2 separate regions of the Homo sapiens genome follow, and region 1 is linked to region 2. Evidence: fine-mapped expression QTL. A gene starts in region 2. The other region holds a variant in brackets. All regions are shown on one strand. Distances are between the middles of the regions. Region 1 overlaps CLYBL (citramalyl-CoA lyase). Region 2 holds the start of CLYBL (citramalyl-CoA lyase).

The links. PIP is the estimated chance that this variant, and not a neighbour inherited with it, causes the effect.
Region 1: its variant is the best candidate, but not a certain one, in a credible set for the expression of CLYBL in whole blood (INTERVAL, PIP 0.79).

Annotation. Positions count from the first base shown.
Region 1 is chr13:99,870,953-99,876,330 of GRCh38, forward strand. CLYBL (citramalyl-CoA lyase) reads left to right here. Exons shown (of 9, transcript NM_206808.5): 7 at 1-110. All of the region lies in intron 1 of CLYBL-AS3 (CLYBL antisense RNA 3), which reads right to left. Among named protein-coding and RNA genes, the nearest start is that of CLYBL-AS3, 84 kb to the right of the region's middle. The variant CT/C (reference allele first, on the strand shown) is at 1,991.
Region 2 is chr13:99,603,997-99,609,374 of GRCh38, forward strand. CLYBL (citramalyl-CoA lyase) reads left to right here and starts at 2,694. Exons shown (of 9, transcript NM_206808.5): 1 at 2,694-2,761. The coding sequence starts at 2,700. It overlaps LOC105370332 (a long non-coding RNA gene), which reads right to left and starts at 1,853. Exons shown (of 3, transcript XR_931674.3): 1 at 1,766-1,853. RefSeq lists enhancers at 1,557-2,536, 2,459-2,753 and a silencer at 2,475-3,034.

The DNA of each region.
Region 1 (5,378 bases), 270 kb after region 2:
ACCCTAACCAAATTGCCGTGGTCCAGGAGCAGTTTTCTCCTTCCCCTGAAAAAATTAAGTGGGCTGAAGAACTGATTGCTGCCTTTAAAGAACATCAACAATTAGGAAAGGTAAATGTTTTGTTAATGCCTTGGGTGAGAGCAGTATTGAAAATATTGTCGGGAAGAATGAAACAAATATGTTGTGTGAATGGTTTAAGAAAACTCATCGTATCTGGAGAGGGGGGAAAGGGAGGGAACACAACATTCACCAGTGAGAAAATTGCTTGAGATAGATTTGCCCTGCCCATGTTCCTAAATACTTCACTAACTGGCTCTCAAGTCCCTCATTTTATTCTTTTCATAAAATATATTGGCAGCCTTAGAGAAAATAGAAGTCTGTTTAGTTTTTCTCTACAGACTTCTATGCAGCATTCATATGAAAATAATCCTAGATCAAAGTGAGAACAAGTTGTAATGAAATAAACACAGTTTGACTAAATGGTTCTTGTGGAGGAAAGAAATAAATTGCAAGTTATTTTAATTTGGGGGGAAAAAAGTACAGAAATCTCCTCCGGTTTAGTCATTTAAGAGTGGGAGGTTGTATATGTGTTTGTACCAATTTCTGGACCTGAGATTTGGATGGAATGGAAAGCAAATTAACACTGGAGTACGGTTGTTCCTAATTTAGTGCATCATTGAGCCTCGCGTTTCCTGCTCTGTGGGTTTCTGCTATGTAAATATTGCAGTGGTAATGCACAATCTGTCTCCACTTTGTGCCAGTAACACTTAAATTAGGTGTCGCCTGAAGGAAGATTTTATGCTAGTTGCAGCATTGTCAGTTAATTATCTTAAAGGTTATTTGCAATAATACCGTTTGCCTCTTTTTAAGAGGATAGGAGGGAAAGTTACATTTATAAATCTATCCTAGAGGTAATCTCTAAACTCAGCCTGTGACTTCCAGAAGGAGTAAAGTTTTGATACCTATAATGCAAAATTACTTAGGAGAAAGAATATTGAAAATTTATTACAGTTCTGAATATTAAACATTCCCCCCTGCAAAAAAAAAAAAAAAAGAAAAAGAAAAACTGGTTTTTAGTGGTGACCCTGAACCTGTGACATCCATGTGAGACATGTCCCTCGCACTTTTCACTGGCAGCAAGGACACCTGAAAATCCCAGGACTTGCCAAAGTGGGCAACAATATTAAATGGGTCATTCCCTAAGGATGTCCACATTCAACCCATGCACACATGGGCACACTCACACACCAGCAGGCTCATCTTTGTACAAACTCACACTTAATCTCCAAAGGCAGAATATATTACGTTGGAAATACCCAATTTGGACTTACACCAATTTCATGATAAATAGCATCTTTCCATTTCCCATCAACAGTGGCCATCAGAAAAGTAATGCATTTCATAGAAACAATATTTTAAGTTGACCTTGTGTTTAGTGTCCATTTTTGTGTCTTAACCCCAGATCAAGATTCCCATGAGTAAATCTATTCACCTAGAACGAAGAGCCACGGACTCTCATTCACATGTCCATCCATCCCCTTCCCTTGCATACCTGCCCACGCATACCCACACCGAATGCTCTATACCTCTGCTACAAGCCTTGTGCCAGCTGAGGACAGGCATGTCATAAACACCTCCTGGTGAAATAGGAAACTGAGGCAGCATGTGGACCATTGAAACGAGAGAGCAGAGTTCCAGTCTGGGCCAGCACTGTGTCTATGACCCATCCCAGCTGGGTTTCACATTGGGTAGCATCAAAGGAGGGCAGTTGGCATTGTAAGCAGATAGGGGTGTGGGAGAGTTTACCCTGAATTTCAGTAGCCAACAAACAGAAGTCAAACCAGAAACACTTGCTTTGCTCAGCATTTAAGTTTTTGAATGAGGAAAATGGCCCTTTTCCATTGTATCTTGAAAAGCGTTGTTCCCTGGGAAAACGCTCCCAAAGTTTTCACACCTTTTGATGATGGCAACTTAAATGTTCAATTCTGGA[CT/C]TTTTTTTTTTTTAAATAAGAAATGCCCTCTCGTTGGGGCATAAGCTCTCACAACAGTGTGGCAGGATGGCTTTTCTTAACACAGAACCATAGAAATTAGAGCAGAGGGGAGACTAACTATTAGGTAATTTCTTCCCTGCCCCATTTGTGGAGGTTTGTTTCCTATAGCAAATTCTCCTGGTGTTTTGTCCAGCAAGGTTGAAATGATTCAAGTAATGGGGCTTCCAGTAGGGACATATGGTTATTTTATCCAGTTAGCATGTTTCTTTCACTTTGCCTATAAACTGGCCGGTCACAGAAATTGGATCTGCAGGTAGGTGACTCTGGATCTTGAGGGGATCTTGGGGTTTAAATAATGTGGGTTCTGTTTGTAAAGATTTTGTGTAAATAGGTTGCACAATTATATAAAGTATTGCTTCCAACAAACATCTAGTCTGTTTTATGTCAAATGTGAATCACTGATGAACACGTGAACCCTCAGATATTTTGTCCAAAGCACAGATGACTCTCTCAAAGATAGGAAACTGATGGTTTGTGTCCTAGTGTGACAGTCACAAATTTCCAAAAGACCTTTTTCCTCCCTCTGATGAAAATTTCATTCAAGTAATGCTTTTAAGTAGAAATGACCCAAGAAGGAAAAATTATGTATCTTTGCTTTTCTGCACTTCTTCCTGCTCTCATCTTAAATTATATCCTGCCCAAACATAAAGGTATAGCTGAAGTTCACAGTTAGCCAAACATAAAGGTATAGCTGAAGTTCACAGTTAGTGCTGAGCCATTTGTGTTTTCTATAGTAATAATCATTACTATTATTCAAACATAAAAGCTCTACCCTTTCTTCCTGTCCTGTCCAAATGGCAAAATTCATGGGACTACTTAGACCATGAGCAGATAAATTATTGGAGTTCAGACTTTGGTATTACAGAATTTTGGGGATGTTTATTTTAATTAAAAGTCCTAAGGAAATAAAGTTTGGTGTCCTTGGTATAATGTTGGTTGACAATCACTTTACATTAAAACAAATAACAATCAGCTCATATCATCTGTCCCTGTTTGGCAGGCAGCGATTCTTGTGGCTGCTTTGTTTCAGGAAACTGAAAGATATTTTCAGGCTAAAAAATTTTGCTTGGCACCGTAGTCCAGTAATCAGAGTTAGGGCTAGAGACTGACACTGGGGACTCTAGGTTATCTTATCTTATTAAAATCTGTTGGAAAAAGTTTAAAGATTCCAAATAATCTCTGCTCCTATGTTAATTCCCAGAAACTAAAATGTTTTTAATTTAGCTGACATCAGCTGTAAGGTTTCCATCCACAATATTAATCAAACTGACTTTCTTCCATCCTTCCAGAAAAATGTTTTTTGAGATACAACGTGCATACCATTAATTATTTTAGTTTCAAATTATTTGGTAAAATGCTTTAGGCAGGATAAATCATTTCCACATGATTTGTTTTAAATTTATAAAGGATTTTCTTAAAAGTTAATTCCATTTTTATGTCTTTTTTTATAATAATGGTGATTCCATTAATATTTGAAAATTCTTCATTCAGAACTGAATTTAATATGCTTATTAAAGTAATAGGATTTCAACAGTTCTTTTTTATCAATAAAGAATTTTATATACTGTAAAAATTGGATACTTGAAAACATCTCAAGCAAATAATCATCTAATATTGATATCAATAGAAATAATTTTATATAAACACATATAGCATACATGTTTATACAACATATAAACATTCAAGTATGTATGATAACGTGTATTTCCTCAAATCTATATTATGAGCTTAGTGCTAAAGTTTTTATCTTTCCATATTCATCACTCTTAGGCAAAAATGACAGCTAAAGGAAACAGTCAGTTGCTTTTTTAAAACAGTCACTAATCACAGGAAATGTTAATATAGGAATTTACTATTTCTTTCCAAATGGAGACTCTAACAGAAGAATGCGAAGGAATAGCACAATATATTACGTGTGTCAAAATTTTAAAGATACTCTGCTAGAATATTCATATTTTGCAGTATCTGGCTACAAATATGGCTTTGCTTCATTTTCAGTTTTCCAGACATTCTCTTTGATTCATATCATGGCTGTACGTGCTTTGTTTGGTTTTGGAAGGATTTTGTTTGGCTTTTTCAATATTTCTCCTTCGTTATAGCTTCACAAGTTGGCTAAAGACTGAGGAAGGGGAAGTATTCATCTTTAAATTCTAGGTTCAATTAACAATTACAAATGTCAGAAACAAGATCACTACCTGGCCTAACAACTGTAAGCATCACGCAACCAACATTCTCATTTCACTCAGGAGAGAAAAACAGTGCAAGCTGATAAGTTCACATTAGTAAGCACATCTTCTGCTGGAATATAAACTGGAAACATCTCTTAATAAAGAAAGAAAAAGGAAAGTAAGAGTTTTTTTCCTTATGTAAGTCTCTTCATCTAGAAACTTTACAAACAGTAATACATCCCTCCTCCCAAAATATTGAAAGCCCATCATTTTCATAGGTGTCTGATTGCTGCTCGCACACCTTTCATTTCTGTTTCCAAATGCAAGGCTTTACAAAAGAAATATTGCTTGGTCCAGATGGCCTTCTAGAAGCCTCCCTGAGAGAACTCAGGAGAAGTTTCTCTAGCCAAAAATATTGTTTCCGCTTATTCAAGTGCCAGAAATCCCACTGCCACTCTTTCACGCAGATCAAATAAACCATCTAAAGACGTGGTTGTTGTCTTTGTCAACTGAAAGGGTTGATTCCACTATTAGACAACAGTGTATCCTCCCACACCCATCCAGCCCACGACCCACAGCCTTCCCTCTGGATTTATGAGCAGGAACACGAAAATCAGAGCTGAGAGGTTTGTAGTGAAAATGAAAGATAAAGGGACATAACTCTGTTTTAGAGATTCTTAGTAATTGCACTTTTCTCTTTATTTCCCTGCTCATTTAACATTTTCAGAAAGATCGGCCATAATTTTGATTTTTAAAAGTCCAGTTCTTAGAAAATCTGAGTCTGCCAATGATGACTTTAAGATTGGATGGATTAACACAAAATTGCGAAATTTTAAACATTTAAAGCAAAGTAATGAATTGCTACAAAGTATTGAAATCATATCATATTCTATTTCACTTTTTTTTTTTTTTTTTTTTTTAGTGGCAAATGGCTGGTTTGGTATTAGAAGATAAGAGTGTTTTTAATAGGCCGGGTGCAGTGGTTCACACCTGTAATCCCAGCACTTTGAGAGGCCGAGGTGGGCAGATCACAAGGTCAGGAGTTTGAGACCAGCCTTGCCAACATAGTAAAACCCCGTCTCTACCAAAAATACAAAAAATCAGCTGGGTGTGGTAGCGGGTGACTGTAATCCCAGCTACTTGAGAGGCTGAGGCAGGA
Region 2 (5,378 bases):
AAGCCCACCTGATAGATGGTTAGTCATCCCATCCCACCCCACCCTCTGAGAACTGCTGGGGAAAGGCACAATAAAGAAGTATTAGGTCGGTGCAAAAGTAATTGTGGGTTTTGCCATTATTTTCAATTCTGTAAGTTTTTTGAGAGCAGGGACCTTGTATGTCTTGTCACTGCTGTGCTCCCAGCACCTGGCTCAGTGAATCCTACCTGGCAGGTATTCAATACATATAAGATGAAATTGTTCTTGCCATTACTTTGAATGGCAAAAACCGCAATTACTTTGGCATGAACCTAATAAATTCACAAACTCATATATCGACATTGTGGTGGAGATGACCAGGCACTGTGACAGTGAAATAGATGTGGGGGCGCCGTTGGGGATCTTTAGGTTATTAGCACAGGCCCCTGTGAGGAGGTGGCACGTAGGCTGAAGGTCCTGGAGGATGAGCAGGTGTAGCCATGAGCATTCTGGGGATGAGGAACGGCATGTGTGAAGGCCCCACGGTGGGAGAGAGCCTCGTGGACTTAGAAAACACAGACAGAAGATGAGTGGGGCTGGAGATAAATTGGAGAGGCTGGCAGGGGCCAGACCGTGTGAGGCTTTAAGGGTCATGGGGAAGAACTCGGATTTTATTCTAAAGCCACTAAAGGGTTTTAAGAAGGGAAGCGATGCAATGACAATAATAATGAGGAATAGTTAACACTACTGAGAACTTGCTTAGATTTTAAGTGTGCAGTCTCTCTCTATGTATATGTAAACTCAGTCTATCATTATAACAAGCCTATGAGGTGATGAGGTATTTATACCCCCATTTTATAGATGAGGAAACAGAGAGCTTAAGAAACTTGACCAAAGTCACACAGCAAGTCAACTCTGGAACTAGGAGCTGCGTCATGCTTTTAAAAGGTCAGCCAGGTTTTATGGCAAACGGGTGATTGTAGGAGGGAAGAATGGGAGCAAGGAGGCTTTGAAATAATCCAGGTAAAGGATGATGATGTCCAGAATCAGACTTGAGTGAGGTGAGTGCAGCCCCAGCCTGGGATGCAAAATTTAAGGAGAAGTCTCAGTAATTACTGCACTCCAGCCTGGGCGACAGAGCGAGACTCCATCTCAGAAAAAAAAAAAAAAAAAAAGATAAGTAATATTGGCCTGGCATGGTGGCTCATGCCTGTAAGCCCAGCACTTTGGGAGGCTGACGCGGATGGATCACTTGAGGCCACGAGTTCGAGACCAGCCTAGCCAACATGGTGAAACCCTATCTCTACTAAAAATACAAAACAATTAGTTGGAAGTGGTGGCACTTGCCTGTAGTCCCAGCTACTCAGGAGGCTGAGGGGTGAGAATCACTCAAGCCTAGGAGGTGGAGGTTACAGTGTGTGAGCTGAGATCGTGCCACTGCACTACAGCCTGGGCGACAGAGCAAGACTGTCTCAAAAAAAAAAAAAAAGTAATATTCTAAACTAAAAACCAAGATAATGGAAAAATCCCATTATGAACAAAATATCAAAATTTTAATTAAAGACAGGATTGGTGTTACTGAAATTGCCTTTGCCTCAGGCTTCAGTATGGCTGGACCGGGCACTGGCTGGGACTAAGGTGGTGACAAGAAAGTGACCAAATTGGAGTAGACAGGCGAGGCCTGAGGTGGAGCAGGCGTGGGAGCTGGGGGAGGGCACCAAGGGGTTGAGCAGTCTCCCCTGTTGGTATCGAATATAACAATAATTCTTAGGCTCAGCAGAAGTTTAGCATCCATGTTCCCAGTCACCTGGACTTTTCCAAATCTTGGAACCCCCTCTGGCTGAAAAGGCTTTTGTTTGTTTAAACGGCCACTTTTTGCATCCAAGAGCACAAGTCAGCTTCCACTGGAAGGTTCTGAGAAACGGTTTCAGGTTTAAGTCTAGAGCATGAATGGAACGGAGTCACAGCTGAAAAAGAAACATGCCGAGTGCCAAGGAAAAGACATGGTTAAGGGGTAACATGGGCCCGGGTAGGTGAAGGTCGGCAGGTGGAGGCCGGCTGGATCAGGGAAGGTGAAAGAAGAGGCAGGGGCAGGGCCCAGCCTGTTTTAACGCCTCGGCGTTCTCACCGCTGCAGAACGGCTGCAGGGGGCAGAGTAAAGAGCTGCTGTCAGTTTCCCTGCCCAGAGAGTGCCAACAGCTGCTCTGACCTATTGCAGGCATGTGTGTTCCAGGATGCAGCCTTCCTGCACTTTGACCACTCTAGATTAATTGCTAACCAAGATATGCACATGATGGGGCTCACAAAGTATTAGGCGGTATTTTAACAACAAAAGCTGCGAAGAAATCCCTAGAAATGTTGGCTCTTCTGGCTGGGAAAACGCAGTCTGTCAACAGTTGCCTCAAAAACTCAGAAGCTCAGAGAGTTGGATTCGGTCACCAGAGAGGCCCCTCAAAGAGGCCCCAACCATTCAGATCCTCTGCTCTGTCCCCCATGACAGCGGGGACGAAGGTCCTAAGCCCTGGCCGGGAGGGCAGTTGACCTCGGGACTCGCCGCGGGGCGGAGCGGGTGCTGGGAGGAAGGAGGGCGTGGCTGGCGGGGTGTGGCTGGCGGGACGGGGCGGGGCGAAGACAGAGCGAGGCGGGGCCTGGGACGGGGGGGGGGTCGGTGTCGCCGTGGGGGCGTGGAATGTGGGGTGGGCGTGGCTAAAGGCAAAGGGCGGGGCGCGCGCGTCGGGAAGATGGCGCTACGTCTGCTGCGGAGGGCGGCGCGCGGAGCTGCGGCGGCGGCGCTGCTGAGGCTGTGAGTGCAGGTCCCCGTTCCCCGCCTTCCCGGCCCGGCTCGCCGCGGGTCGGCTCCTGTTGCAGCCCCGCGGGCCGGGCGCGGCCTCCCCAAGCCCTCACGGGAACCCAGCCGGACGGAAGCACCATGCGCCTCCCACGCGCTGGCTCGACCTCGTCCAAGGTCGCTGCCGCCCGCGCCTCCCTTTGGGAGGGCCCTCGTTGCACCCGGAAAATGGGTACACACCTTAGGTCGAATTACCTGGACTCAGCCCCAGGAAACAAAACTGCCTGCCTCCCCCAAATGGCAAACGTGAACGCGCCAGTCTTTGAGAGGCGGCTTGCCTGGTGAAGAACACCTGCGGTTCGTTTAACACAGCGGTTCCCAAACGGTTTGGTCTCAGGACCCGTTTACACGTCTAAAAATAATTTGAGGACCCCCCAAAGCTTTTGCTTATATCTATTGATTTTTGTGCATGAGGAATTAAACCAGAAATTTAAAAAATATTCACTTAATAACAAACCCATTAACTTTTAATACAAATAACACTTTAATGCATAACTTCTCAAAAAAAAAGTGAGAAGATTGGCTCATGGTTTTTATATTTTTGAAAATTTCTTTGGTTTAATAAAGGACAGCTGGAGTCTCATATCAGCTGTTTTGAAGGAAATATTTGAAAGAAATTCTGGGCTCATGCAGATGCAGATATTAGTTGGGAAAGGGAGGACCAAGCAGACCCTCTCAACGGGTCTCAGGGACCCCCTCAGGTGTCTTTGGACCACACTTTGAGAACCGCTGGTCTAGCACTTGCCCATCGCCTAGGTACGTGCACATACATGGTCTCATTTGGTTCCCTTGACCACCATGTGAAGAAGTTGGGTGTCATGTTTATAAAGATGAAAAAACAGGGTCAGAAAGGTTAAGGATTCTCAAAGCCCTATGACCAGTAATGAGAGAGTTTGGTTCAAACACTAAGTGTATGGCTCCTGGTCTGGAACTTCTTTATTTATTTATTTTTATTTTTTGAGACAGAGTCTCGGTCTGTCACCTAGGCTGTAGTACAGTGGTGTAATCTCGGCTTACTGCAACCTCCACCTCCTGGGTTCAAGCGATTCTCATGCCTCAGCCTCCTGAGTGGCTGGCATTACAGGTGTGCACCACCACCCCTGGCTAATTTTTGTATTTTTAGTAGAGACAGAGTTTCGCCATGTTGGCCAGGCTGTTCTCGAACTCCTGACCTCAAGGGGGTCCACCCGGATCAGCCTCCCAAAGTGCTGGGATTACAGGCGTGAGCCACCATGGCCGGCCTGGTGGTCTGGAACTTCTTTTTTTTTTTTTTTTTTTTTTTTTCCGAGATGGAGTTTCGCTTTTGTCGCCCAGGCTGGAGTGCAATGGCGCCATCTCAGCTGACTGCAACCTCCGCCTCCCGGATTCAAGTGATTCTCCTGCCGCAGCCTCCGGAGTAGTTGGGATTACAGGGCGTCCGCCACCATGCCCGGCTAATTTTTGTATTTTTAATAGAGACGAGGTTTCACCATGTTGGCCAGGCTGGTCTGGAGCTCCTGACCTCGGGTGATCCACCTGCCTCGGCCTCCCAAAGTGTTGGGATTAAAGGCGTGAGCCACCGTGCCCGGCCTGGGTCTGAACTTCTTACGTCTTCTTGCACTGTGACTCTTCAGTCACCCATGTCCTATGGGAGGACCCACCTAGTCTTATGCATCCCACTTTCCCATTTCCTCCGCTGCCCCTGGCACAGGGGAGTCACCCCTCGCCCTAGAGGAGCAGCTCAGGCAGTGTATCCAGGCTGGTCCAGAAGGGTCCTTTTCTGGCGCCTTTTGAGGGGGCCAGCGTCTGTGACCTGTTCAGTAGCGGGTCCAGTGAGCGCACACAGTCCCCACGCCAGTACGCTGGGGGTTAACTCAGTGCTCCTCACCCGCCTTAGCACACTGGTCTGTTCTCGACATGTCTACCCGCTGAATATAGGATTCTTGATTGGCATTTTTTTTCCTTTGAGCATTTTAAAGCGTATTATCGCACTGTCTTTTTGCCTCCATTATTCTAATGAGAATTCAGACGTTAATGTTATTAGGGTTCTATGTAAGTGATGAGTCTTTTTTTTTTTTTTTTTTTTTTTTTTTTTGCTTGATTTTCTCTTTGTCTTGGTCTTTCGGTGGTTTTATTATGATGTGTGTAGATCTGTTTGAGTTTATCCTCTTGGAAGTTTATTGAGTTTCTTGGATGTGTATACATCAAATTTGGGAAGTTTTTGGCTATTGTTCTCTCAAAAAAGTCTACTCTCTTATCTCTCTCTTCTCTTTCGGAGGCTCCCATTGCGTATATGTTGGTGTAGTTGATGGAACCCCACAGGTCTTTGAGACTGTTCCATTTTCTTTCTGTTCCTCAGGCTGGACAATGTCAATTGACCTGTCTTTGTTTTTTTTTTTTTTTTTTTTTTTTTTGAGACAGAGTCTTGCTCTGTCACCAGGCTGGAGTTCAGTGGCGCAATTTCTGCCCACTGCAACCTCTGACTCCCGGGTTCAAGCGATTCTCCTGCTCCAGCTTCCCGAGTAGTTGGGATTACAGGCACGCGCCACCACGTCCAGCTAATTTTTGTATTTTTAGTAGAGACGGGGTTTCA